Linked DNA regions of Homo sapiens: region 1 is linked to region 2. The links come from fine-mapping of genetic effects on gene expression. A gene starts in region 2. The other region holds a variant in brackets. All regions are shown on one strand. Distances are between the middles of the regions. Region 1 overlaps MRPL35 (mitochondrial ribosomal protein L35). Region 2 holds the start of REEP1 (receptor accessory protein 1).

What was found.
Region 1: its variant is fine-mapped to the expression of REEP1 in whole blood (TOPMed, PIP above 0.99). The same link has a PIP of 0.9 or more in blood mononuclear cells.

What each region holds. Positions count from the first base shown.
Region 1 is chr2:86,208,377-86,223,274 of GRCh38, forward strand. MRPL35 (mitochondrial ribosomal protein L35) reads left to right here. Exons shown (of 4, transcript NM_016622.4): 4 at 2,104-5,414. The coding sequence ends at 2,292. It overlaps REEP1 (receptor accessory protein 1), which reads right to left. Exons shown (of 9, transcript NM_001371279.1): 8 at 11,594-11,745; 9 at 5,617-8,734. The coding sequence ends at 8,663. Among named protein-coding and RNA genes, the nearest start is that of MRPL35, 16 kb to the left of the region's middle. RefSeq lists an enhancer at 9,790-10,084. The variant A/G (reference allele first, on the strand shown) is at 9,066.
Region 2 is chr2:86,330,759-86,345,656 of GRCh38, forward strand. REEP1 (receptor accessory protein 1) reads right to left here and starts at 6,868. Exons shown (of 9, transcript NM_001371279.1): 1 at 6,721-6,868. The coding sequence starts at 6,752.

The sequences.
Region 1 (14,898 bases), 120 kb before region 2:
GCTCACTGTGACCTCTGCCTCACGGGTTCAGGCCATTCTCCTGCCTCAGCCTTCCGAGTAGCTGGGATTACAGGCATGCACCACCATGCCAGGCTAATTTTTGTATTTTTAGTAGAGACGGGTTTTCACCATGTTGGCCAGGCTGGTCTTGAACTCCTGACCTTAAGTGATCCACCTGTCTCGGCCTCCCAAAGTGCTGGGATTACAGGCATGGGCCGTGACGCCTAGCCCCACCCTTTGGTTTTTATACCAGTTATTTCCAGGTCCTCTTCTAGCCCTAGGTAAAATGAAATGGGTGGGTTTCCTTGCCTTCCTTTCCATGTCCCTCTTACTGGGCTCTGGGGCCCTCATGTTACTGTAAAGGACCCGATCATACTCTCCAGTCATAATACCTAGCTTCAGTTCAGGGCTCCCGAAAGTATACCCTGTATAGAATGCCCTGCCTCTTCAAAATCTAATTTTCAGAGAAAAAAAAAATCTGGGTAGATGAATTCAAACTAATGTGTAAAACAAAGTATTTTCCATGACACGGTTTCATCCAGCAGTCCTTGGTATTTATTGTTCATTCCCTCCTTCCATTTTTGAATCTAGAGATTGTCTAAAAAATTTCAAGCATTTTCATAGTGGTTCCATTCTGTGAATAATCTTTAAAGGATACTGGTGGTAATGAGCAGGGCAATAAATTAGGTGTTTGTACGTCAGAGATCCATAGTAACCCAGTTTGGCCTGCAAACTATGAAATTATTACACAAATGTGGAGATTTGGCTTTAAATGTTTGCATTTAAAATTGTAAGCAGTGAGTAGCAAAAATCTAACCTCTAGCATTCTAAAACCAGAACTCTTAAATAACCTTTCCTTATTTCATCACTGTCCTTATAGAAGTTGATGGTCACAGTGATGATACTAAGACATGTCAGAAATGCAAGGCACATTCTCGGCAAAGAGCCATGGTTTTGTTCAGTTGGTATTGTGCCATAAAGAGCCCTTGGCTTGAAAGGACCCAAGGGCTCACCGTGTGGTTTTAGCCAGATGTTAATTAAGCTGGATGGCACCTAAGATCCCTTCTAGTTTAAACAGGCTATGATTATAGTTTTTATAATCAATCAAATTTTCCTTTCCTGTCTTTAAAAATAAATTCTTCAAAATGAATAATACCTGTATGGGTGTATATGAAAGTTCTGGGTTAAATATGTGGGTTAACCATTCCTTCACCACTCCTAATAATAGTCTTACCATATTCATAATTCCTTAGAAAAGTACTTCCTATAAAAATTGGTCCCTTGTGTGTGAAAATAATAAATGAAGCAATATATTTGAGAACTGTGCTTCTCAGCTCTTGTAATACTCAGCCTCCTTAATAAATATTAATGTTGTTACCTCGCCTGCACTCCATCCTCCTCTACATTAGGAAAGACAGTGGTTAAGAACTCTTATTAGCCTGGGCAAGATGGTGAGACCTTATCTCTACAAAAATTTAAAAAGTAGCTGGGTATGGTGGTGCACACTTGTGGTCCCAGCTATACGAGAGGCTGAGGCAGGAGGATCACTTGAGCCCAGGAGGTAGAGGCTGCAGTGACCGTGATCATGCCACTGCACTCCAGCCTGGGTGACAGAGTGAGACCCTGTCTCAAAATGAAACAAAAAAAGAACTCTTATTAGCCCTCAGACCTCTGTCTGCTACTTCTCTAATCAATGGTTTCTTTTTTTAAAGATGTAAAATAGAATAATAGTATGTTGTTAAAGATTGCTGAAGAGATAGTAAGATCATACCTGTTAAGTTAGTGATTATAATTCTGTCATTATCTTGTACTTTCCCAGCCACACACATTTAGTTTTATTTTCTGTGAGTTTAATTTAAATAATTTTTTTCTAAAATATGATTTATTACTAATTCTTTTTTAAACTACACATGCTTTCTCCATCCCCCTCCCCGCCACCCTCCCTTCCCCCGGCCATTGAGAATCACATCTTTCCAAGAAATAGTCCAGCCCCTATGGAAGTCTGGTTTTTGTTCTTATTGGGTCTATAAACCTTGAGTTGTGAAGATACCTGTTGTTTCATACATAGTATGATGTTTTACATTTCTTTGTAATATCTGACAGGCTGGCTATAAGAAAAAATTATGGAAAAAGACACCTGCAAGGAAGAAGCGATTGAGGGAATTTGTATTCTGCAATAAAACCCAGAGTAAACTCTTAGATAAAATGACGACGTCCTTCTGGAAGAGGCGAAACTGGTACGTTGATGATCCTTATCAGAAGTATCATGATCGAACAAACCTGAAAGTATAGATCAGAAGTTTCACTTGTTTCTCAGTTATTGGATATGTATCTTTGTGTACATATCTTTGCAAAAATGGATAAGTACAAAACTTGATGTAAATTGTACCAATGAATACGTAAACATACAGTGACAACATTAAACTTAGAAAAGTTTTAAAACTTAATGGATCAGACTTTGCCAGATTTGGTTAGGGAAACAGAAATTTAGAATGGTGCATTATTTTTAACAAATGGTATTGGCTTAACTAGTTGTTTCAGTTATGCTCTTTTAGTTGCAAGGAATCTCAAGTGGGACAAACATAAAAAGACTCAAAAGCTACAAGTTAGCTCAAGCAATGTGACATTATTTCAAGGATATGTGCCAGGGAATTCAGGAACCACCTCACCAACCCCATCTCCCACTCAGAAATCACCTCCCAGCCTCAGGAAGAGTAGAAATTGGGTGGTGCTCCTCAGCAGGGGAAGGTGGATGTTTAGGCTTGGGCTCTGCATGCATGTGACTTGCTTCTTTTTGCATTGTTAACTCCATTCTCTCTATTCACCAACTTCTCTACACAGCTTTTGCATACTTACAGTTTCTGTTCCTTTGTAATAACTTTAACTTGCACCTTTGAGGTTCTTTTCTACATGATGACCTTCAGCTCCTGCTGCTAGTCTCCAATTGCCAAGGGAATTTAACTGGGCCAGACTACCTTTTTATACTAGGTCTGGTTGGGTCATTGTCTAGAGTAGGGATTGGCTGTCCTTAAGTCAGGAGCCCGCTTTGTATTAGCAGGTTTGCATGCAGCAAAAAAACAGTTATGTGAGCAGTTTCACTTGGAGGTTCACATGGGGTGGCAGCACACTTAACATCTAACACACCAGGTTCATTGTGTTCATAACACTTGTCATTTACTGTAACAACATTTTTTCATAGGAGAGTAAATAGCCCTTCAGCATGCTCATTCATGAAACAGAAGAGGCTGTACAAGTGAAGACAAGGGCTTTTTATGCAAGTTTTGAAAGATAGGTATTTATTTTTTCTAGAGACAGGAGTTTTGCTCTGTTGCCCAGGCTGGAGTGCAGTGGTGCAATCATAGCTCATTGAAGCCTCGCACTCCTGGGCTCAAGTGGTCCTCCTGCCTCAGCTTACTGAGTAAGGATATGTATTTCTTAAAAGTTAGTTTATCCACTTCAGATTTCATGTTTTCATTTGTAAGGATAAACTTTTCCCACAAATTTTCAACAATCATTGTAGAAACTAAGGGGGAGAAAGTAATCTCAGTTGTTTTAGAAACGAAAAAGTTAAGCATTGTTTACTTGAAGTGGGCAGGGAAGCAGCACTGAGTAAAGTTCAATTGAGTGGTTACAGTCTAGGGCAGTGGTTCCCAACTCTCCGATCAGAATCATCTGGGAAGCATTTTCAAACAGCAAAGTACTTTGAAAACCATTATTAAATAGAATTATGCATGAATTACTGTTTCAGATCCTTTAATGTGGTAGTTGGTAATAATAAGATGAAATTCCTCTGTTGTTAGTAAAATTATGAAATTGAAGTTCTGCAGCATGTCAGGCCAGGATTATTAGGGAGATTCCTCGAAACTAGTGTGTGTTTATTAAAAGGAGAAAGGATAACAATAGAATGTTCTAAAACCAGAAGTCCAAGTGCGTGTCTACTTATGGGACCAATAAATAAAGAACAGACATTTGATTTGAGGTGAGGTAAAAGCCTGAAACATGGAATGGCATTCTGTTTTGATGGATTTTCATTTCTTCGCACTTCTGAGACGGCAAAGCCAACCACTTAGAAGCCTTCCACATCTTTGTCACCTGCCTGGCTCCTGCTCTCTGATGTACCTCTGGGTAGTGAGATGGAAATGGTGCCTGCAGAAGTTGGGGAGAAGGATACTTTTGCACAGCCTCCATGATGTCTTTATTGCAAATATGGATGACAAGGGTCTCTGTTACAGGGGCCTCAGAGCACCTTCGTTTCTCCTCTAGACCAGGGACAGGTGTAGAGATAAGGACTGGCAACCAGAGCCTCAGCATCCAAAGATGGACTGAAGTGGGATGGCTGACAGGCACATAACTTACGGGAAAGGGAATTTCATACATACGATTTTTGTTTTGTGGGTAGGAGGGCTTATCATCAACACTGATTTTATAATCTGACAATAAATGTCTTTCATTAAAGAGTTTACCTAAATGATGTTCGATTATATGTATAATTTATAAAATATTTATGTATAGTTTGTTTATTCAGGTATATGTATAATTTATTGAACACCTACTATGTCCCAGCATATCTACAAAACTGGGTACATACATACTGTCTAACTGCTAATCCACATTTCCAGTCTTACAAAGGACATAATGATTAGTTAAGCCCTAATTTAGATTTGAGGAAACTGAAGCTGAGAGAGGGTTAAGTAAATTACCCAAAGTACAGCTAATAAGACCCAGAATCTCAGTCTCACTCCTTGGGATCCTGTGTATTTCCCTGAGTCTTCTAACATATGAAAATTCATATCTAAATCAACAAGTGACTGTAATCTGGTACTATAAATACTAAATAAACACTTCTTCATAACACTGTACCAATTCAGCTTTTAAATTTTATTACTTTGCTTTCCTGTCCTTTGCCAACTCTTAACCTAGTTAATCCTAGTTCTGTTGACATTGGACCAGGCTCAGTAAATAAACGAATGGATTTCCAGCCTTTTTTTCCCATCTGTTCCTGCTTTTAGTCCTCTGAATCTGCTTCTTTTCTTACTGCTGCTTTATTTTACAGTGATTTTGTCAAACATAGAATACAGGACTAAAAATGCAAAGAAATTGGGTCTGTGTTTAATTTTGATGTTTCAAATTTTGAGCTTCCAAGTCTTTGTGGCCACCCAATGAAGTTTGAGTCTGCCTGTTCAGATGTGAAAGGTAAGGGCTGCAGCAGGTTTAAGGGTGGCCCTTCACCACCCTGTTGTCACCTGCACAGGCACTCCCCCATTTGCAGATGAAGAAATGTTCAGAGAAGAAAAATGATGGACCAAACGTCTGTTTGCACAATTGAAACTCTACCAGTGGACTATTCTATTTTCACAGCTACCTAGTTTCTGCCGATGATTTTTTTAAATGTGAAATAAACAGTGATACTTTCAGGTTTGTAGTTGTGTGATGAACTGGTTTTCAAAACATTTATATCATCTGGTTTTCTTTCCCTCTCAACATCCTATGCAACAGGCACGGGGCCAAGTCACCAGGCCAGTCGGTGGCTGAACACTCAGCTTCTAATCCTTGCTACCTCCCATATTTGAAAAAAAGTATTTCCTGTTTCCTTTTAAGCCCAACATTACAAAGATGTTTTTTAAAAGAAAAATGTTAAGACTTTATTCAAGATGTGTATCAGGCATTATAACAAAACAGCAGAACTTCAACCTTTGGAATACTGTAATTTTACATCCCTTTGATGCACAGTCCAGTATACTATTTTATTACAGATCATTCTATAGGGACTACAGACATGAACTAGAGGAAATGTGCACAGTCAAAATCCAGAATATCAGCTCTGGGAGTGTACACTGTTAGAGGATGAAGCACATCCTTTGCCATTTCAAATACTGTGCCAGGTGGAGGACTAGGAAGGCTCAAAGATGGTCATGGTTGACAAGCACTCTTATCACAAACACATGGATAGCTTATCACGGAGAACACATTTCAAAGGCCAGCAAAGTGAGCAAGCTATTCACACAAAGCCAGGAGGGATTATGACTAAACTCTCCAGTTTATAAGCACAAGTCCACATCTCACCTCCTCAGAACAGGTGCTCAATGGCAATTAACTAAAAGTTATGACATGAACATTACAGACTTTCCAGCTAGCATTTTGTAAACAGCCTGTGTCTGTAAGTCAGCAAATTAAAAACATTCAGTTGTATCCTCTAGACAGAACACCACACCACTACATGTACACTTACAGGCTTTCACATTTTATGTCAGTTCATACACAAATGTACAACTTGTCAGATACGTAAACACATTTTGCCAGAAATATGACAGCTGCTTTCAGTTGTACAGTGAGTGTCTTTAAGAGAGAAACCGACTCCCTAGTCAACACTTGAAGGAAAAATAGTTACATTTACATTAAGACAGAGTTTGGATACCTTTATATTTTTCAATCTTGAATGAGAAGTAATAATACAGCATGTCTGAGAATAGAGCGCTTCAAACTTTTTTTGGCATAGTTAAGTGCAAACTTGATAACCTGTACTTGTCACAACTCTCCATTGTAAAATGGCGAAAATATAGGTTGTTCACGATAGGATTTTAAACTGCTGCTAAAGGCAATTTATTGTTTCGGCAAAAAAAAAAAAATTGCTAAGAAGCTGTGTAAGCTTTTTTTTTTTTTTTTTTTTTTTGCATTCGTTTCTGATAATTCTGGGTACTTCCAACTAACAGGTAAATACATTTTAAAGAGTATATTCTTCTTCTGTCTGGAACTACTCAATGAGCACAAAGAAAACATTTTCTGTCTTCCTTAACAGATTTAGGTATTGGTGGGTGTGGGGCACAGAACATGAGCAAACAGCTTCTGTTTATCCTCTCAGCCACAAATTCGCTTTTAGGTATATTTTCCTATACCCTTTTGCAAATTACAAAATCACCTTCAGAGGAACTATGGGTAGATGGGATTCCAATATGCATATCTGGCAACAATCAGCTTCAAATCAAACCCTTTCTGGGGTGGCTAAGATCCAGCTAATGTGTCATCAGCAAAGGCCTCTAATATGTGTTTGCGTAGTAATGGAACAGTTTTTAATTGGGCCTGTTTATAGTTGACTGACAGTAAGTTCTATATGGTATATAACACTAATTCTCTAGTCTTCTGGGCATATCTACGAACAAATACAATCCAAATATTATGAGTAACTGGGTTGTGACCACTGCATGCATTACACTGAAAGAAACACCAACTCGAAGCACAAATATATTATTCTTATATTTCGGCTCAGCTCTCAGTGGGGAGAGCAGCTACCTCGGACCACAATGCCATTTAAACCAGATTCTTTTCAAATAAAATTCTCAATCTAAGTGGAAAGCCCCCTCAGAGAATGCCTTATTCCCCTACTAAGCAATCCAGGCTTGTATAAAACGTCTGATAAGGCCTGTAGTGCCCATTGAGTATGAGTCTGCTGTTTACATTCTGCACAGGCCAGGAGGGGAACAGAAGGTGTGAGCCACAGGTGCTCCTGGGTCTGACCAGCAAGTCTAACCCATGAAGATCTCGAGCTCCAAAACCATTCTAGAGCCCACCATTTTGATTGTTACACATGTGTTTCAGATGTATGTTATGGCATATCTGAAACAGCAGAGTTCTCAGTTTTTTGTGTGTTTGTTTTTGCTAAGCTAAACAAGTTTTGCTAGAGTTCGCTAAAACAAGGTGCTCAGAGTGTAAGCTCCTCTGTCAGGAAATCGGCAGCACTGGTCACGATAAAGGAGAAATCGTCCTTTGTCAAGCACAGAATTACTCCTTCCAGCAGCTCTACATGTTCCCATCCTCAAGAAATTGCACCAAGAGTGAGCTACCTGCCTATCCCTGGAAAAGATTCAGAAGCTCCTAATCCAGAATCCAGGGAGGAGATGAGCTTCCTGTGACTCTTCTCTTTTACTGGGATGTTCCCCTGACCTCTCATCACACTTTACTGTGTTGTGAAATATTGTTTCTCTTAGTTTGTAACTTGTCTGGTCTTTTGACTAAACAACTATCTAAAGAATATAGACCACACTCCTGCAGGGAAAGGGATGTCTTACTGGAGTTGTATTTGGAAGCTTTATAAGCACATCTGAGACGTTCTCTAGAATCAAAATATTTGTCTATATTTGTTTTTGCAGTTTTCTTACATATCAGAACCTCTGGCAGCCCTTGCAAGTCCATTATATTAAAAGCCAAAAGCCATAAATATGTACATCATAGTTCAAAGTATAAGTACCAAGAACAAAGAAAGTTGTAAAAAATGCTGTGTTTGCATTTACAGGACTAAAAACTAAGTATGCAACAGATAAATTACAAATGTACATCTCAGCAGCATAGGGGTGATTCTCTTATCTTTCTAAAAAACACACTGCTGTCTATAATGACAATCCAATTGTGGAAAATTACCAACCTCAGAAGACTTAAAGGTCACCACCCCCGCCCCTACTACCTTTCCCTTTAGCCTCTCCCCAGCAAAATAAAGAAAAGGGGGAAAAAAATAAATCCTTAAAAGTGGAAGGGGAGAGAGAAAAGGCCATGTTTGTGAGGCTGCACACTCAAAGCACACCCAGCTTGCGGATTTCTATGTTATTAGTGAATAGCTCTTTAAGGCAGAGAAGAAACATTCTGTGGATCCGGTGCTGTTGGCTCATCTCACTCACGTGGTTTCGGTGGCCGAGGATGAGGTACTTTTCTTCCTGAAGCGAGATCGAAGGATTCTAGGCGGTGCCTGGTAGAGAAAACAGAAAGGTGTCCCTCAGTTTGGTGTAAATGTGGGATCTTTTGAGGTCAGCACCTGGAAGGCATTGTGTTGAGACTTCCAGCTCCTTTGGCCAAATGCAGCTGGCTAGGGCTGGGGTCTCCCTGAATCTCCGCAACAGGAAGCAATCATCAGAGTCCCATCCCACATATCGCATGAAGCTGAGCCCTTTGAGAGGCTGATGCCTCCCTCTTAAATTATGCTCCTCAATCTCCCAAGGGAACGGTTGTGCAGAATGACACATCTTTCTTGTTTCTGCCTGAGGAGCAAAATTATCTTAAATGATTCAGCAGAAAGAGAC[A/G]CCTCCGCATGCTTCCTTTGCTTTTGTTATTTCCTTTGGGAACCAGCCTAATGTGTTTTGGTACATGCCTCAAATTTCCATCATCAAATTTCCAGTCCCCTTTCTGGATGAGAAACCTCTTAATGTACAGCACACCACACCACAAAGGCAAACACCACCTTGAAGTACAGGTTGAATATCCCTTATCCGGAAATGCCTGGAGTCAGAAGTGTTTGGGATTTCAGATTTTTTTTTTTTTTTTTTCAGATTTTGGGATGTTTGCATATACATTCCAATTGAGCACCCCAATCTGAAAATCTGAGATTCAAAATGCTCCTATGAGCATGACCTTTGTGCGTCTTGTCCACACTCAAAGAATTTCAGATTTTTCGATTAGGGATGCTCAACTTATATGAAGGGCTCCACCTCATCTCTCCCACAAATGACTCTCAAGAGACCCCTCCTTCCATGGGATACACAGATCACAGGAGGAGTTCCTATTTCAATGAAAGTGAAGGGAACATTTTCTGGCACAGCACTTGAGGGGGTTCACACAACTGGCCCCAACCTACCCTTGGCCCCCGTGTCTGTCCACTTCTCTGTATACACAGAGAACTTCTTTCTCTACACTGTGCCCATTCATGCCTCTATTCCTTCTGACTGGAAGCCCTTCCCTCCCTCCTCTGTCTTGCATATTTCTAGGCCTCTTGAGGACCCAGCTCAAAAGTCACTTCTGCAAAGGTTTCCCGGAGCCCCTCCTGCCACTGCCCAGCCATGCACAACCAGGCATCGTCACCTCCTTTGTTCTCTCATGTTTTGTACATGTCCCCCAGCAGAGGACTTTGCACCCAGTGGGAAGGGAGTGTGTGGGGGCCCTGCTCACTCTCTCCCCACCAGACTGGGGACTTCCTGAGGGCAGGCCCATGTCGCATTCACCACCATTTCCTGGTAAGTGGCTCAGTGCTGGGCAGGCACATACAAGGCAGGAAGTGAATGAGCCAGAAAACAAGACTCAGGCCCTCTCATAGAGTCCTCATGCTACAGCCTTACCACTAGGAAATGCTTACCAGCCACCTCTGGACAGACACTGAAAACGGAAACAACGGAACCCACCTTTATAGTAATCTGCCTCTTGGCAGGCTGGTGAACTGTAAACAGTAAAGCAGTTTGTGCAGCTTTAATAAACAAAAGCAAAACAGCACAAACCCTTGGGCCTTAGAATTCTTTAGGCTGGGCTCCTCTCCCCATCAGGAGGCTGCCCAGGCCAGATTGCCCAGGCCAGACTCCTCCAGCAGTGTCCAAGCCCAGAACATCCTTTCCCAAACCCTCTAACTTTAAAAGGGATGCATGTGTGCCTCACCTTGCAAAGGAACCTGATGAACTGCACATGGAGGTGGTCATAATTACAGTCCTAACAAATAAGAATGCTAGGCTGCTCAGTGTCTGCAGAAGGGAACATTTCAAGGCATCTCCCCATATAAGTCTCACAAGGGTCTGTACGGAGACTTCCTATTTGCTTCAGATGGCCTCTCAGGCCGTGATACTCAGCAGATGGGGAATAGGAGAGGAGACCTTAGGAAGCAGAGAGAAAGACTGGGGTCCCTGCACCTGTGCTCATGACTGGTGACTCCCTACCCACATCACAGAGCAAGGCCCAGGAGGCTCCAGGCTCAGCCCTCCTGCTGCCAGAACTCCATCCACATCCTACAACTGAAAATAGCATATATGTCAAGGGTATTGGTTTTGGTAACCCTAAAGGGCTATACCCCTTCACTAACATTTCATGAATAGCTACTTTATACCAGGCACTATATGCTGTGTCTTGGAGATACAGCGATGAACAAGCCTTGTTCTTATTTATAAAAACTTTTCAAATAACACATTCTGAGTTTTCTTCCCCCAAAACAGTCAATTTGGGTTGTTTTTCACTTGTACGTCAACTTAGAGTGGTAGTTGTTAATACCTGGAAAAACCAAAACAAAACAATAAAGACCTAGATACTTTACCACTCTCCTATTTGTTTTTCTTTTCTTTTTTTTTTTTTTTTTGAGAAGGAGTCTCGCTGTGTCATCCCGGCTGGAGTGCAGCAGTGCAGTCTCACTGCAACCTCCTCCTCCTGGGTTCAAGCGAGTCTCCTGCCTCAGTTTCCCAAGCAGCTGGGACTACAGGTGCGCGCCACTACACCCGGCTAATTTTTGTATTTTCAGTAGATAAGGGGTTTTGCCATGTTGGCCAGGCTGGTCTCGAACTCCTGACCTCAGGTGATCCACCTGCCTCGGCCTCCCAAAGTGCTGGGATTACAGGCATAAGCCACTGCACCCGGCTCACGCTCCTATTTCTAAATGAAATTAATAGGATTTCCTCTCCTTGGCAAGTAGCTGGATGCTATCCAGTGACTGGTTCTGCTTGTTTGATGGAAGGAGATCTTTCCACCCCAGGTATTGAGGAGATGTTGGTGCCCCAAGAGATGCTGCTCCCAGGACCCCCAATCTCCAGGGCATAGCCTTTGGACAAACACACTCCAACCCACAGCCCCAGACACTGTGTACCTCCAGGGGCAATTCCATCCTTCGAGGTGCTTTATACTTGTACATGAAATCCAGCAGGTCTTCCTCCTCGTCGTCAGAAAACGCCAATGGGTTTTGGACCTGGTGGGGCTCCCATGCCTTCATACCACCCTCATTCACATCTCCCTCAACCACTTAATGTCCATTTACAATCTACACAGATGAGACAAGGTATAGCAAGGAAGCATCAGTGCAGGGAGCAGGGAAGGGCAAGGTTAGGCACACAGCACAGCAAACCAGGCCTGTGAGGACAGCTGAGGCCCCTCGGTCTGAGGAAGCACTGATGTTTTGGGGGCCTCCTTACAGGGGATCTGGGATTGTGAAAGTGCAGTTGTGTGAATCTCCAGGCACTGTGCACAGAAACAACCACAGACTCAGAATCTACTGAATTCTGAGTAATTCAGTAGATTTACTAAGGGGGCATCACTTCCCTGGGTGAAGAAAGAAGCGGCTTTAACTGAGACACATCAATCCCTGCAGCTCAGTCCTGTGATCCCACACCAGGTGAATGCTCAGGGAAAGAATCTCCTCTAGAGAGGATGGCAGCAGTGATGTGGGGTGGGGTGGGAGAGCAGTTTCTATGTTGTACATACAAGCCATGTTGACATTGTATATTATACTTGCATATTCAATTCCAAGCATCCTGTAAGAGACAGGATATAAAATGCCAGGAGGCCTTAAGTGATAACCTTAAACAAAGCTATATAGTTTTTTTGTTTGTTTTTTTTTTTGCGAAGGCCCAGTCCTAGAGAAGCAGAGAAACCTAAGGAAGGAGAATCTGACAGATGCCTCTGCCAAAAAAAATGATAGCAAGATTCCTGTTTCAGTCTGCCTTGAATACATCTGCGGGAAAAGCTTCAGAATTAATTCATCTCATTGAACGCACAGTATTTTTTAAATGTTAAATGCTAATACATATTCCATGTCATCTGCTAGGCGGTTCTTAGTTGAGATGTAAAATATCTTCTGCCCCTACCCAGCTTATCTGGTATCACACACACACATTTTTCTATGCTGCATCTATTGTTTTTACCTAGAATCACAGAATGCAAGACTAAGGGGTTCTCAAGTCATCTGGTCCAATCACCGTGAGGCCTCCAGATAGAAACCACAGCTCTTCTTGAGACACCCTGCTCCTAAGAACATATTCAGCCACCGAATGTGCTCTCTCTCCATCAACAGTGGACTTGCTAGACTATACCACCACCAGGCGTGGAGTAAAAAAACAGACAACTGAACCCTAATCTTGGGCAGCTTTACCAGTTACCACTGCTGTGCTCCCCAACAGCCAGCAGGAAGCAGCACAACATGCAAAGCTGAATTTTAGGCTGGGGTGTGATTGGTTCAGACTGGGCCTTAGTAAGTAAAGTCCTGAGATCACTGATGTTCCTTTGATTTTTAAATTACTATTATTATTTTATTTCTACTCTGCACTTCCCTCAGCTTATTTACTCTGGGCTTAGTTTGTCCTCTGCTCCCTTCCTCTGTCCTAATCAGCTGCATCCTGTTGAGCACAAAGACCAGTGACTCCAGGGAGCCCTCGCTGAATACTCTGACCCTCCCTGGCCTCCCCACTCTGAGACCCGACAGTGCTTGGAGGCTGTGCCACACAGCTTGTGTTGGGTGCCCTGGTCCTCATGTCAGTCTCATTGCCTCAGCCAACAGAAGGCATCCTGAGACTGGGGGGCCATGGCTGATCCTCCCTCAGTCTCTCTGAGCACCTGACCCAGGGCTGGGCACACAGTGGCCACTCATCAACTAAACTAAATAGAATCCTGAAGTCATCTCAGAGAGCTCAGCTCTAGTCCCAAGTCAGAGCTTGACACCCCCATTAACCAAACCAGGAAATTCCTTCTGGACACAGATACCTCCTGCCTGGCAGGAGGGAAAAAAGACCAAAAGCCCTCAGACCAAGGCAAAAACTGCAGAAGCAGCCTGGCCAGCTCCACCCCAGCAGCCAACTCCATGACATGGAAGTGGGGTGGGTACCGGTTCGAGACTGTGCCTCTGCATATGCTGTACCCTCCACATCCAGGTCCAGGGCTTTCCCTGTACTGATGGTTGTGGGTGTCAGAAGGTGGCCCAAAGTCACCGTGAGATCCTCAGGCATCTAACAACCCAGGCTAGTTATCCAGTCTGGATTCACTGAGGCTGAGCAATGAACTCACACTTACCAAAATCACCATCATCACTATAATCTCAGGACTGAAACCAAAATGGCTTTGTGCATGTTCTCCACTGCAAGGATTGCAGGGTAGAAAAGAAATGACCCTCCAGCCCAGTAGGAGTGATGGTTCAAGGACAACCCAGATATCCAAGCAGGAATAGAAACAAGTGCTCAGCTCAGCAGAGGCTGGGAGCAAAAGAGGCCAGTGTGGGCAGTGAGGGAGCCAGAATAGCCTCAGGAAGAAGCTACAGAGAGAACCTCCTAAGAAGATAAGACATCTCCTAGTCACTGTGTCCGCTGAGCATTTCTGCCAAGAGTGTTGTCTATAATATTTGCCTTACTCTCAGAACCAGTGAGAATAAACATTCTAAATAAGACAAGCTTCCACGCCTCTAGCTGGCTGTTGCACAGTGGACTGAATCTCTTAATAATTGTATTTCCCTCTTTGCAGTGGTTTCAAGGAAGCCAGGTGTCTCAACAGTCTACACCTTGATGGTATGCATTTAAAATGTCCTTCTCCCCACTGATTCCATCTTACTTGCCCACTCCCTTCTCCCCATGCTTCAATTTTCTTACTTTGATTTGCTACTTTAGATATATTTCCACAAGTAGACCTAACTCCTTTTTATATCAGGAAGGAGTATAAATGGAGAAATGAACCCCACAGAACATAGTCCCAAAAGAGGGGCACCAGGAGGAGCAGGAGAGTGAGTAGCTGGGTAGAAAATCCCATGCTCTGCCTCCTCCATGTTCTTGTCCCTGAAGATCTAAAGATTGGTGACCCAACAGGTCCTTACCCCTGGCAACAGGCCTGAAAGAGTATTGCTATCCACATCTTAGTACTCTAATTGGCTCCCAGAGACAATGTGTGTGGGAGGAGGGTCTCCCGCCCAAGGTCATGGCCATAACAACTTGCAAACCTCAGGTGATGGTGGCCACGGCCTTGAGCCTGCAGAGCTGCCACTATGATGCCCAAAGCTGGGTTGCTTCTAGGAAAGGGCAGGGTTTCTGCCGTCTTCCACAGCAGGGGAATGGGTGTGTGGCCTTGGCTGATGTTTCTGTATTAGCAAATGTGTCAGCAGGGCTACAGCAGCCAGGGCTGCAGGCTCCACCTCTTCTC
Region 2 (14,898 bases):
TTATAACGATAAGACAAAGGAAATCCAGTCAGCCTGGGACTCTCAGTGAATGCGATGAGCAGAGTACCCCTGCCAACCCACAGTAACAGGCAGCAGAAAGCAAGAAATAAACCTTTGTTTTCTTGAGCCACTGGGATTTGGGAGTTGTTCCTGCAGCATACCCCAGTCCATCCGAACAACAAATATTTAATGGATTATAAGCAGCATTTAAAGTTTTCATTCTAGGATATCGGACAGTTCATGGCATCAAAAAAGCAGCTGCAGGAACTGGGGCCCGAGCAACCAGAACCAAGATTCTCTTGTGCCAGCCTCTTTCTCTCACCCAAGTCTCATCTCCATTTATTTTTGCTTTGTTGTATTCTTCACTTTTACTTATGGACTTTCTCCACGTATGCCAGGGGCTTTAGATGCCTCAGCCCTAACTTCATATCTTCCCAACTCTGGAACCCATAGGCAAGGCTATTCTCCCTCAGCTCCAAATCAAGAAACCCTGGGGAAGGATCTCAGTTTGGGTCACCTGCCCACCTCTGGACCAATGTCTGTGCCCAGGGAAATGCATATCTAGGCCTGGGTCACATGCTGACTTCTGTGGCTGAGTGAAGGGAGGCAGGATGCAGCATGCTACCAGAAGGGAATGGAAAACTAGTTTTGCAGCCCAAAGTACTATCCAGAGTCCCCTACAAAGAGGGGGAAAGGATATACACACCTAAGTATGCAGGAGAATGCCTAAGGCAGACTTTGAGCTGTGATCAGTGAAAGGAAAAAAAAAAGGTGGGGGGGCGGGGAATGTAGTATAGATACGCAGGATAGTCCTAAGAGGAAAGAGAAGCAGGGCAAGACAGCCTCTAGGCTGGACAGCTACCTAGAGTGGGAACAGGAGGCACCTTTGTCCTAGAACTGCCAGGTGACTGACAAGGCCACGGGGAGAGGGAGAGATAGGATGTCAGGAGGAGATGTTAACTCAAATAACAGATGCTCTCTGTTTACTAATCTAGTAAATCTGACAATGGGGCAGACCTTTTCTGATCAGGAATGAGCTAAGTGTGGAAGAGCAAATACTGAACCAACCCATGTGCCCCATTGCCATCTTCCCTGCATAAAGCACTCTTGGGACTCCTTCCCCACTGAGCCTAACTCAGCTTCTTGCTCCTCAAGACAGTGTCCTAGGCAGCCTCACTTGCCATCCTGGTCTGGGTACCCACGCATGCTTGAAGGCCTATACCAAATTACCTTTCAAGATTCCTTCTGAAATCCCTACTGTGTGCCCAATAGTTGGTCCTTGATCTATATTTCCTTTTTCCCTGTATTCCCAGGGAAGCCCCAGTGTGACTTAAAAATCCCAAAGTGAAAATAATGTGCTTCTGTATAAAGACAGATGAGATCTGAAAATTCAGAATAAATACTCTGAATATAATGATCCAACTTCCAGTTCCTCAAGAATCCCAATTCCCTTCCCAAGGCCCAGAATCGAGAGGAGAACATCCTTAGTGCCCAAGTGCACCCCCCTCTCCTTACTTCTTTTCGGGGGTTGGAAAAACTCCCCCAGACTAAGAATTCTGGTAACCAGCTGGGCATGTGTGTGGCTCATCCCTGGCAGTGAAATTCTAAAGGTGCCACGTGCTATGGCTGCTGCACTGCCATATCTCTCCTTTCCCTAGCCTCCCTAACTTTCCTGGAAACACACACACACACACACACACACACACACACACACACGTTCACTCACATACACTCATACGTACACAAAACAGCAGCCTCACTAAATGGCCAAAGAGGACCTGAGTCCCCCTTCCCTCATTCTCCCCAGGGCTCCTCCTCCCCCGACATAATACACCCTCCAAAAAAGATAGCGGGCTTCAGAAGGAAGTGGGGAGACTGACCCAGTAATAACTAGGTGAGACCCTCACTTGTCAGCTAACCTCAAATAAGACACAGTGGGAAGAAGTGCATGAAAGCTACTTCTCAGCAGACAGGCAGGATTAGCAAACAAAGAAACAGGGCAGCTCAACAGCGGAGAAATCTAAGCTAGTATTTTTCACTTCCTTGAGGATACTCCTCCTGTTTATAAATAAATGTGATGCATACAGGCCAGCTGGGGAAGGAAGGGACCTAGAGGAACACTGACTCTTGGAGCTCTTAGGACCTGCAAGGTGACTGTGGCCAAAAACCTGTCTCTTAGACAGGGAGCTGGCCCAGGTGGGTGGGAGTTGCCCTTAGGACTGTGATAGTGAGTCAGACCAGCACTGGGACTAGAACCCATGTCTGCTGCCTACTAGCCTAACATCTTTCCTTTCACAATTCAACCGAAACATTTACCCAGCTCCCACAGTGTACTACAGCACAGTGCCAGGAAATCAATCCTCAACCAACTGGAACCCTCCATTAACTGAATCAGTTTCCTGCATGCCACATTTTAAAAGCAGGCCCCAAAGAAAAGCTAGCTTATATTTAAGGATTTACGATATTTTCTTTTTTTTCCATTTGTTTTGCAACAGTTGGGGAACATCTTGAGGACAATCCACATTCCTCCCAGCTCCATCCATTTGCACATCCCTGACCCAGGACAGACTTCATGCTCCAAATCCCAGTCCTGGAACTTAGCCAGATCTTCAGCCATCAAACTAAGACTCTGTCTTGATCATCACACTGTATTTTCTAAAAACTAGTATTTTTTAAAATGTGCAATGTGGAAATAAAATGTTTTCTGCACAGCCATTAGTTATTCAGAAAATTCTGTGGACTTAGAACTCTCTTTCCCCCATGTAGTGAGCTGGGGTTTTAGTCTACTAATCCCATAAGGGGTGAGAAGCTCTTGATCCGTTCAGCCAACATTCTGGGCCTTGGCCAAGACAATGAGGCAATACCTGCTCCTTAGAATAATGCTTCAAAATGGCATATTCTTCCAAGAAGTCACAGAGCAACGTTGGTATCCCCCCTCCAAAAGGGTGCACAAAAACATGCTCTCCCCAGTTTGAAATTCATTCATGCCTAGGCCTTGAGTTGTATGTAAAGAAAATGAAAGGAGGCAAGCAGGCAAGTCCTAAATAAGCCCCTGTGTCCCATGAAGGTATCAACCTGGTTCTGAGTGCTATTGCACTGAGTATCTCTTCCTTAATTCTTTACAGGCTGAGCCAAGGAAGTTAGGAGAAAGAGAGCTGGCAAGAAATAAGCATCTCAAACTGGTCCTCACTCTAAGAGCCTTGCCCGTGGGCACAAGCCTGTCTTGATGCCTGCTGACCTCCGTCCCCAGGGGACAGCAGTAGCCAGCCACTCTGCTTGTCCCCAGGGCCTAGGATTTCCTTCAACACAACCAACCTTCACTCAGTGCATTCAGGTGCCAGATACTTTGTGAAAGACCCATGGCAGGGATAAAGCGGTTGTAAAGGGAAACAAGCCACAATTGCTTTCTTCAAAATGCTCACGGCCAGTAGCAGCAGAGACAACCACGAGCACTGGCTGGCTGTCCCTGGAGGCCATCAGCTTGTTGTGATACCTCTGGTCGGATGGTTGGGACCACACAAAGACAGGAAGACACTCCCTCTCTATCCTCACAACACAGTGATAGGTCTTCCTTACATGTTCTTTGATGTGACAGAGGCTTACAAAACCATGAAAAGATTACTTATACAAAACGTGACTCGCGGATAAAACCATAGGATGCTCCCATACCAGAGGTCTAGGGAGCTTGAAAGAGATGTTTTTCTCAGTGGGGAGTGAAGGTGGAAAAAGCACTGGACTGGACTAAAAATCCAGAGCCTGTTTTCTTCACCAGCTCATCTTGTGTCCCTGAGCAAGGCATATTTCCTCTGCAGTTTTACAGATGAGGGGGAGGACTAGATCAGTTGTTTTTATTAGCAGTAAAACACATATATTTTTCTGAATTGTATTTTATCTAGAACCCCAATATATAAGACAAACAAAAAGGGAACTGCTTGGGTTGAATCAGGGATGAGGAGCCCAGAGCCCATCTGCTCAGGCTGGGTGGCCCTCAGGGAACCCAGTTTGAAAACCACAGGAGTAAATTAAGTCTGAGAGCCCCTCTCATAGGGTTCCCGGGGAGGACAGAAGGAGGGACTCATCATTGATTTAGTGCTCTCCGTGGTGCTTGGCAATTTATATATCAAGTGTCATGGAAATCTTTGCAACAGCAACATGAGGTTAACTAGCTGTGGACTAGCATCTGCTCTGATCTGAGTTGTGAACTGGGATCTTCTGGCAAGAGGCAAAACTGGGATTTGAACCATGGGCGTTCTGACTCCAAACACAGTATTCCTCCCCTTGATAAGAAGTTCCTCAAGGTATGTGGAGTGTAGAATATTGGGCTGAATCAATAATATCCTTGAATTACAAATATATGTACATATATGCAATACAGGAAAATTTCTTGAAGAATATGCCCTCCATCATTATTATTAGTTATCTCTGTGTGGTGGAAATGTGGATGATTTTCAGTTTATCTTTTCTAATTTTCCTGTAATTAACAAATATTGTCTTCATGAAACAGGTATTGCTTATTAAAAATGATGTTCATAACTCATAATCAATATGCTTATGCTAGGTTTCTACAGGGAATTAGGGACTGGGGGATAAGTGGTATCCCTGACCTTTTGGACTTGATAGTGGAAGTAACAATCCCAAATCCCATCAACTCTCCTTGGGCCACATAATGCTGTTCATTTAAATTCTCTGAAGTCTCGGTTCTAGGGAGTGTGGTTGTTTTAGAAAGCAACAGCACATCCCTGAGACACCTCCCAAATATATGCCTCTCCTCTCCACCCCCATCAGTTGCTCATTGTAAAAAAGGGGGAGGAGCCGGGCGTGGTAGCTCACGCCTGTAATCCCAGAACTTTGGGAGGCCGAAGCGGGCGGATCACTAGGTCAGGAGTTCAAGACCAGGCTGGCCAACATGGTGAAACCCCGTCTCTACTAAAAATACAAAAATTAGCTGGGCGTGGTGGCAGGCGCTTGTAATCCCAGCTACTCGGGAGGCTGAGGCAGGAGAATCGCTTGAACCCAGGAGGCGGAGGCTTCAGTGAGCCGAGACTGTGCCACTGCACTCTCCAGCCTGGGCGACAGAGCGAGACTCGGTCTCAAAAAAAAAAAAAAAAAAAGGGCAGGGGTGAGGGAGGTGCTAATAAAACTAATGATAGTCACATGACCCAGTGCTAATAAAACTAATGATAGTCACATGACCCAGGATCAGATGCCCTCACTCCCAGCCCAGCAGGACCTACAGAGAGCCCACCAGCCAGGCCAGCTCAACTCTCCAGCCCCACCCTGAGGGCTTCCCAGAAGCCACTGGCAATATCGATCCCAGAGAGGAAACACCACCCTGAAGGCAAGACAGTGTTGGTCAGGCATGAGGCTGGGCAAGGCGTGTCAGCCACTTTCCTGTATTATTCATGTCGGCTCTGCCAGCAGAAATCTTCTAAATATTTAACATGCCACCTCAAGGTGCAGCGCAAACACCCCGCAGTCAGGAACAGCTGTGGAGAGGCCTTCACGGAATGACTTGGGGGCTGAGAGGCACAGACACTGGCTTTGGGAGGAAAGCCCTGAATGGTGGCGGGAGACAATGCTGAGATCCACTTCGGAAGGGAAAATCAGTAAAGAAGGGAAGGGAGATGGGTGGTGTTTCAAAACGTGGGGAGTGATGGTGCACAATCACTGGGGTCCAGAGCCCCGTGTTCTCAGACAAAGAAAAAGCCCGAGGTGCCTGCCACCCTCCTCCCCGCCTTAGACTCCCCACACCCATTTCAGCCCCTGCTAGCTACAGCAGGTGGCAAATCTGTTCTGACTCAGGCCAGGATGGTTAGGGAAGAACAGGGACTTGGAACAGCCACGTCTATCTCCAAAGGAGAATAAATCCACCGGGGAAGCTCTTCAAACGCCTACAGGTCCTGGGGCTTGAAGGAGAAAATCGGCCCCCACGCCCACCCCCAATGACTTCACACAGACCTCACCCTAGATGACTCTGCGCTCTCCTGCAAGGCCTGGGAGGTGTCATCGCCACCATGCGGGTGGCTGTCACTTGAAAATTTCCCGTGCATTCCTGGAGGTACCTGCCCCTGTCTCTCAATCCCCTGCAAAAGGAGTCGGAGCCGGGGGCTCCAGGCGTTTACTCCAAGATTCACATGCGTCTTCCCATGTCCCAGCTGCCTTTGCCGCTGTCGATGCAGACACCTAAAAAGGAGGATTTTTCCAACCCCACTGGGAGCCCCGCCTCTGCCTCTCCACCCGTTCCGCGCTGACCCTCCAGGCAGCGCCCCTGGTTCGTCTGCGCTGTCCTTTCCACCTGACAAAAGCTGGGGCGGCGGGGCGCGGCGCCGGGCGACCTCACATTTCTGCCAAAGGAGAGAGACGCGTGTCCGCGGTGCGCCCATTCGGGGCCTCTGCAAATCGACCGAGCTGAGGAACAAAGCGGCCAGCGCGCGGCGAGACGCAGCCCCCACGGAACCCCCGAGCGCCCCAGCCCTCGCCGTCCCGGCCCAGCCCCCCGCAAGCGGCCGCCGGCGCCGGCTGCCTCCTGGGCAGCAGCCGCGTCCTGCGCCGCCCGTCCGCCCGCAGGCGTCCTCGGCGGCTACTGTACCTGCTAAATTTAGCTGCGCCGGGTATTAATAGCCCGAGCCACTGGGACCGGGCGCTGTAGGGGCGCGCGCAGCCCGGGGCCGGGGGCGGGGAGGGAGGGGACGGAGGGGCGCGGGGGAGAAGGCCACTTACACCACCAGCCTGGAGATGATCCATGACACCATGGCGGGCAGGCGGGCGGGCGAGGCCCGGGCGGCGCGGCTCGGCTAGGCTGCGGGCGGCGCGGGCTGCTGCGGCGTTCCCGGAACGTCAGTCAGCTCACGGCAGCCGCCGCCAGACTGAGCGCGCCCGCCGCCCTGCCCGGCGTTCGCGCGTTGGCGCAGCCGCGGCACGTTCTGGCGGCGGCGGCGGCGGCCCCAGCCCCCCGGGGCTCGGCGGGCCCGCAGCGATTGGGCGGTGAGCTGGTCAGGGCACCCGCGGGCCCGCCCCGTCCCGCTCGCCCTGGCCCCCGGCTGAAGGCGGGCGCGTCCTGCGCGCTCCCCGGGGCACCGGCCCCGCCAAAGGAACCCTGCAGCGGCCCCGTTTGCAGGGCAGGGACCCGGGTGCTGCCCCACCCTCAGCGTTCCAGCGGAGAAACTGAAGTCCGAACCTGAACCTCGGGAATCTGTCTGCACCTGTCTAGGTGGGATGCTGTCATCCCTCATTCAGCTAGTGCGTTAGCCTCATAAAGGGTTTACCTGGATCCAGACCTAACCTCTTCAGTCTGTCCGTTGCTCAGCACTTTCTGCATAAGAAACAAACCTGGGCGCTTGCCTCCCTACTTAAAATTCTACAGAGTCCCTATATGATCGTGGTACCTGCCTAGAACCGTGTTGCCAAGACCATTCCCCCAAATAGTCCTCTAGCTCTTTTCCCTCCAGGCATCTTGGACTCAAATATTTGCTGTTTCTTCTTCCCTGTCAGTACACGCCACGCCTCATCGTCCTGCCTTGGTTTGATTCAGCTCCTTCTTCTAGGCTGGGCTGAAGGGCTACTTCTTCCTAGGGAAGGCCTTTCCTTGGGGGCTGCTCCGGGCCCTAGGAGGAGACTAGAAGCTGCGACTGCTTAGCACCAGTGCCCCGCTGAGCCACGTTGAACTCTTAGGCAAAAGGGAACTTGTGCACCCTATATAAACGTTTTTATGTATTTTTTAAAATACCGTATTAAATATTATGGTGGTTTTTTTTGTTGTTGTTGTTTTTTTATGAGACAGAGTCTCGCTCTGGGGTGCAGTGGCGCGATCTCGGCTCACTGCAAGCTCCGCCTCCCGGGTTCAAGCGATTCTTCTGCCTCAGCCTCATGAGTAGCTGAGATTACAGGAGTGCGCCACCACGCCCAGCTAATTTTTGTATTTTTAGTAGAGACGGGGTTTCACCATGTTGTCCAGGCTGGTCTCAAACTCCTGACCTCGTGATCCGCCCGCCTTGGCCTCCCAAAGTGCTGGGATTACAGGAGTGAGCCACCTATTATGTATTTTAGTTGCTGAATTTTATGGCACCTCTTAAATGTTGCACCCTCACTGAGCGCCTCACTCTGCTCACCCTAGTCCCGGCCGCAGATAGTACATTATTCTGTTACACTGGAAACGCTTTGTCCTCTACTCCTAGGCTCTGCTGCTGCTTTTCCCACCCTCCAATAGCTTAGGTTCTGCGTGGTGCTCCCAGCGCCCTGTCCTTTGCTGATGATGGTGTCATGTATAATTCAGTGTCAGATGTGAGAAGCGCAGGAGACAGCTTAGTACTCTCAGATGTAGCAGAATCTGTGCGTGCGTGTGCCTGATATAGTCAGAAGAAAGACTTCACGGACAACAAAGGGACTGCAGATGAGACATGCTCTCATATCTCAGGTCTCCAAAGAACCCATAAAATAGCTGTAATGTAGCAGTTTTTTCATGCTGCCTTGACCCAGTTTTGAGGCTCAGGCTGGAGGCTGGTCAGTTCCCCTTCTCCAGCAGTCTATTAACTGCATACCCCCAACCACTTCCGTTAGCAGGCTCTCACACGCGGGACACTATACACCTGTCCAGGGCTAGGCACCAAACAACTAGTTACAGCCCCTGTACTTCAGAACCCGCTGAAATTATCCAAATTAGCCTATCCTATATCTGCTTGCCTTATTTCACTCTTTCCTTCCCTCAGAAACCATGATAAAGATGTTTGTCCACAATTCCCCTCTCTCCCTCTCTCTGTGACAGACCCTGGCCCTGAGTGGACCTGCATGGTGTGCTGTGATCTCTCCAGGAAACTGTGGATATAAAAAGCTCTAAAACTCTTTCTAGCTTCTCTCTCTTGATCTGTGTCTGGCCCCACCATATCTCACTCAAGGTAAGGTTATACGGGTAAAACAATGCTCCACGGGGAAAAGCTTTCCATACTTACTAGGCAAAGAGAACACCAAAGCTAGATCAGGACAGCACCCAGCACAGAGGACCTTCCTGAGACCTCCCTTCCCCTCCATCCATACCCCTCACCTATGCTCCCTGCGTCAGAAAGGCTGTTACCCATCTTGCAGGGGGAGCAGCGGAGGGATGGACTACTGTGGTTCAAAGAGACCCTGTTGGTGGGAAAATAAAGAAGAGGTGACCACATGCTTGTTCCCTACTCCCTATAAGTGGAATTCTCAGATTTGACTATTGCACAGGACTGAGCATTTTAATTACCAAAATGAAACTATTCATGGGGTTAAAATATCTTGAGGTCTTTTCATTAGCTGAAGAGGACCAGAAAACTAGTGAGACCAACACATATTTCTCACAAGGGATGAGAAAGAACTTGTCCATAGAGCGGACTTGGATGGGTAGAGGAGGGAAAAGAAGAAAGAAAGAAAGAAAGTTGCTTTTGTACTGCATTCTGTCTCTTTCAGTGTAACTGTTACACTTATTGTATCTCTCTATCCTGGACCTGCTCTTGTTTGTCCTTGGCCCTGGAAAACATGTGGCCAGGGAACGGACTCCACCTTCTAGACAATGGAACTCTTACAGCTCTATCAGTTTCTTGACTTCAAGTTCTTTTTCATAAGAACTGCTTTGATAATAGATGTCTCTCATCTGTTTTTACCCTGTACCCTTCCCCTTTCTTCTGGGAAGAGCTCTCTGTTTTTCACTGGGGAATGAGTCTCCCCATACTCCAACCTTAGAAACTGTGATTTTCTTATATATCCTCACTACCTTGATTGGCTTATGGGTGATCACCAAACAGAAACTGGGCCAACGATCTCCCTTGGGATTTTTAAAGTTGAAAATAGAAAAAAGAGAATTCCACTTTCTTCTATGAAGCATTGGCTGCTGTGGGAATTGTCCTCCCATTGCAAACAACTAGAAAAACAGGATCAAAAAAAAGAAACAACTGTTTTTCTTTACTTGTTTGTTTGAGACGGAGTCTCACTCTGTCGCCCAGGCTGGAGTGCAGTGCTGTGATCTCGGCTCACTGCAAGCTCCGCCTCCTAGGTTCACACCATTCTCCTGCCTCAGTCTCCCGAGTACCTGGGACTACAGGTAGCCACCAGTATGTCCAGCTAGTTTTTTGTATTTTTAGTAGAGATGAGACGGGGTTTCACCGTGTTAGTCAGGGTGGTCTCGATCTCCTGACCTCGTGATCCACCCTCCTCGGACTCCCAAAGTGCTGGGATTACAGGTGTGAGCCACCGTGCCCGGCAAGAAGCAACTGTTTTTAAGCATTGAACAACAGAGCACAGGACTGTGATAACTAAGAGAAGAGAAACAAATGAAGTGAGTCTTACGTCCGAGCTTACTGTCTCAAAGCAGTTTCCAGGCATCACTGTAGGGATGGAGAACCCAAACAGAGCCCAGAAATTTCACAGAACACAGGAGACAGATCAGAGTCCAGGGAAGCCAAAGTGGCTAGAATTTGTGAAGCAGAATATAAGAGTGATGGGAGATGATTAGAGAGAGAGTTGCAGAGATCTGCAGAGCAGTCACTTCAAGTCATTAGCTGAATACTGTCCTAGGCATGCATGGGTGAAATTCTATGAGGCCATGGGAAGAACTACCAGAAAGCAGTATGCCAAACAATTCCTGGAGCTCACACAGGGCTGGAAGTAATTTGTCTTCATACCAGCCAAAACAGAGACCTTTTATACACAAAGCATTGGCCAGAGTCCACAGAAGGGTATCATCTTAATGCAGGGGGAGGCTAAATTAGCCCTAAAATAAACACTTATCTGGTCCTGCCTTAACAAAACTTAAAAGCAATCTTCAAAAGGATCAAATTGATCTCAAGTAACTTAACTGTGCTCAGAGAAAAAAAAAAGTCCAAGATTAGTTACAAAACAAACAACAACAAAACCCAACACCCAATAAGATAAAATTCACAATGTCCAACATGCAAACAAAAATTATCAGGCATGCAAAGAAAATGACTTGTAAGCAGGTTGAAAAATCAACCAATAGAAACAGACCATGAAGTGACAGAAATAATGCAATAAGCAAATAAATACCTTCAATTTTATAATATTTGAACAGACATTTCACCAAAGAAAAAATACAAATGGAAAAACAAAAAGTACATGAAAAAAATATTCAACATCATTAATCATTAATTAGGGAAATACAAATTGAAATCACAAGAAGATATTACTGCACACATTTAAGAATGGCTACAATGAAAAAGACTGATCATTTCATGTTCTGGCAAGGATATGGAGCAACTGGAACTCTCATATGCTGCTGGTGGGAAAGTAAAATGATACTACTTTGAAAAATGGTTTTCTATATTTCAAAAAAAGTGGAAATTACTTTTGCCTCACACCCTTCCCCTTTCTTCTGGGAAGAACTCTCTACTTTTTTTGGTGAATGATTCTCCCCATGTTCCAACCTTAGAAACTGGTCAGACAGTTTCTTTTTTTTTTTTTTGAGATGGAGTCTGGCTGTGTTCCCCAGGCTGGAATGCAGTGGCACGATCTTGGCTTACCACAACCTCTGCCTCCCAGGTTCAAGCAACCCTCCTGCCTCAGCTTCCTGAGTAGCTGGGATTATAGGCATGTACCACCACACCCAGCTAATTAATATATTTTAGTAGAGACAGGGTTTCACCATGTTGGCCAGGCTGGTCTCGAAATCCTGATGTCAGGTGATCCACCCACCTCAGCCTCCCAAAGTGCTGAGATTACAGGCGTGAGCCACCATGCCCGGCCCAGTTTCTTTTATAATTACATATACACTTACATATGACTTAGAAATTCGATTCTTTAGATATTCACCCAAGAAAAATGAAAACATGTCCACACAGACTTGTCCATAGCAGCTTTATTCATAATGGCCCCAAACTGGAAATAACCCAGATTTTCATCAACTGGTACAAATTGTGGTATATCCATACAATGGAATATTTACTACTCAGCAATAAAAAAGAAATTAACTACATATGCTTGCAACAACATGGATGAATCTCAAAAGCATTATGCTAAGTATAAGAAGCCAGATACAAAAGACTCATACTATATAATTTCATTTTTATGAAATTCTAGAAAAGACAAAACCATAGTAACCAAAAGGGCATAGTGGTTCCCAGATGTCAGGGGTGGGGATTGTAAAAGGGCAAGAGGAAACTGTTTTGGGTGATGGAAAAATTCTATATCCTAATTGTGATGGTAATTACTAACCATAAACAGATTCATCAAACTTTACATTTAGAATTGGCAGGTTTTGTTTTATGTAAATTATACATCAGTAAAGCTAAGTAATAAAAAATAGAAAACATATTTTTCCATGATGTCTTATGAGAAGCTCTGTAGTTGTGGATAACCATGTTTTTATTGGCCTTTTTCTTATTTATTATTTAAAAATGTTTATATATTGAGAAATAAGCTTTTTGACTGTCATCCACATTAAAATCTTTTTCCCAAGTTATCATTTTCCCTTCAGACATTATTTATGACATTTTTTCTTTTCAAAATGTTCAGAATTTTATGTAATCATTTTTATGTATATTTTATGGCTTGTGAGCTTTGTATTGGTTTATATATACCATTTGCCTCTCCTATACTAAAATTACTTATTTTTAAAATTTTTCTTAATTTTTAAAAATTTAAAATTAAAAATATTTCTGTGCATCTGCCTTTAAATTTTAAATTTTAATTTTATACTTTTTATTTTACAGTCCACCTGGAATTAATTTTAGTGTATGAGTTAGTTACTTGTCTTAATACAATTTATTGAACAAGCCACCATTTTCTCCTTCAAGTTGAAAGGCCATCTCCATCATATACTCTGTTCCTTATTATATCAGAGTCTAGTTTTTCTAGACTCTGTTCAGTTCTGCACATCCACTCATGAATGGTTGTAGTTTTAATTACTGCAGTGTTTTATAACATATTTTACTAATAGTAGGGATAGTCCCTTCACTTCCTTTTACAAATTTTCTGGTTATTCTTGCCATTTATACTTTCATTAGACTTTACAGTCATATTATCTCATTTTTTGATAATTCTGATTGTTATTTTTAATTGAGATGAGGTTAAATTTTTAGATTAATAATTAATCATGACAGTATTTGTCTTCCTATCCAAGAGCAAGGTATTTGTTTTCATTTATACAAATTATCTTCTGTGTTCTTAATAGCATTTAATTTTTTCTTCAAGTAGATCTTTCACATTTCTTTACATTGCCATTTGAACCAATGTGTTGTATTCCATTGTGTAAATATACCATAATTAATTTAAACAATTCCATATCATTGGCCATATAGTAATAGATCATTTCCAATTTTTACTGATTAAAAACCTAGGGCCAGGCATGGTAGCTTGCACCTGTAATCCCAACTACTTGGGAGACTGAGGCAGGAGGACTGCTTGAGCCCAGGAGTTTCAGTACAGCCTATGCAACAAAGCAAGACTCCTTCTCTAAAAATTAAAAAATAATTAAAAAATAATTTAGCAATGAACACACTTGTAGCTATATATTTTAATATGTTCATAATGATTTAGTTAGGATAAATTCCTGGAAATTGAGTCTTTAGGGGTATGAACTTTTTGGGCGGCTTTTGATGCATAATGCTAAATTACATTCCCAAAATGTTTCAGAAATGTTTGTTCTAATTTTTGTAAATTATAAGTGTTACATGTGGTATAGTAAGGTCTCATCATACAATCAATAACTTACTTGAATTAAACTTTAAGGGTCAGGAAAGAAAGAGAAAGAGGAAAATGGCCTGTATTACAGGGGTTCTGCCTGTCCTTTCACTTCATGACTTCATGAGAAGGCGCCCTGTGCTGATGATACTAGAGAGGTGGCTCTGCTGTTTCCTCCATAGACCTCGGTTCCTATGACAACCCCACACTCTGTGTGTGTGATTCTAGTGTTCACACATCCATATTGTTTGTACAACATGATCCTAAGCACCTCCACAGCTTCAGTTGGAAATGAACAAAACTGGAAAGTGATCTGATCCACAGCCTGAGGAAAAGCTCATTGTGTTAGACCACTATGAGCCATATAAATAATTTTTTACTGTATCAAATTTTTGCCTTAAACATTGACATTGATATGGAAACTCAACATCAAGTGTACCTACACCCAGAGTTGATCTACCATGAAGATAAAGCATACGTTTTAGGACATCTAATTAGGAGCCTGGGAATGACTCTAGCAGTATATTAACATGATTAGATGTCTTTAATAAAATGTGCAAAATTAAAGATTTTTATTAAAATCTGTTAAGACAGCTGTTTTTTCTAGTTCTCAATCACACTTCTCCTTGTGCTGAGTGTTATCCAAGTGGCTGGAGGCATTTTTGGAAGTTGGCTACGATGAAATTGAAAATACATTTAAAGTTTGGTGGGACATATGTATGGAGCTACAGTGACTTCCATGTCCGTTTTAGCTATGGTTGCTCCCCAATAAAGGAATGGCTTCCCAAAACACTCCTACTGCCCACTGTGTCAACTCACTCAGCTCCACAACACCATAGGCAGAGATAAAGATTGTATCCTACTATGATCGTGGCCTGCAGCCTTGGTCCTGGAACTGCTTGAAGAGTAGAAGAGAAACACAGTTTGAAATGTACAGAGCCAGCATCTAGTCTGTATCTATTCTTCCAGTCATCAGATGTGGAAAACTGTGAATGGAGGGTTCAGTTCTCATCTGTACCCAGTCAAAATGATTCTCCTCTTTCAGGAACATACTCCATAATGCAGTATAGACCACTACAAATGCACTACATCTATTTTTTTAACTTTTTTGGTGGGCATGATGTGAAAGAGAACATATTAGAATGCCTGACTTTATAAAGCACAAACCTATAGCAGTGTTACAAACAGCAAGCAAATCTATGTGTGGAGTCATACGTTTTATGAATCTCAACTCTAAATAAGAAG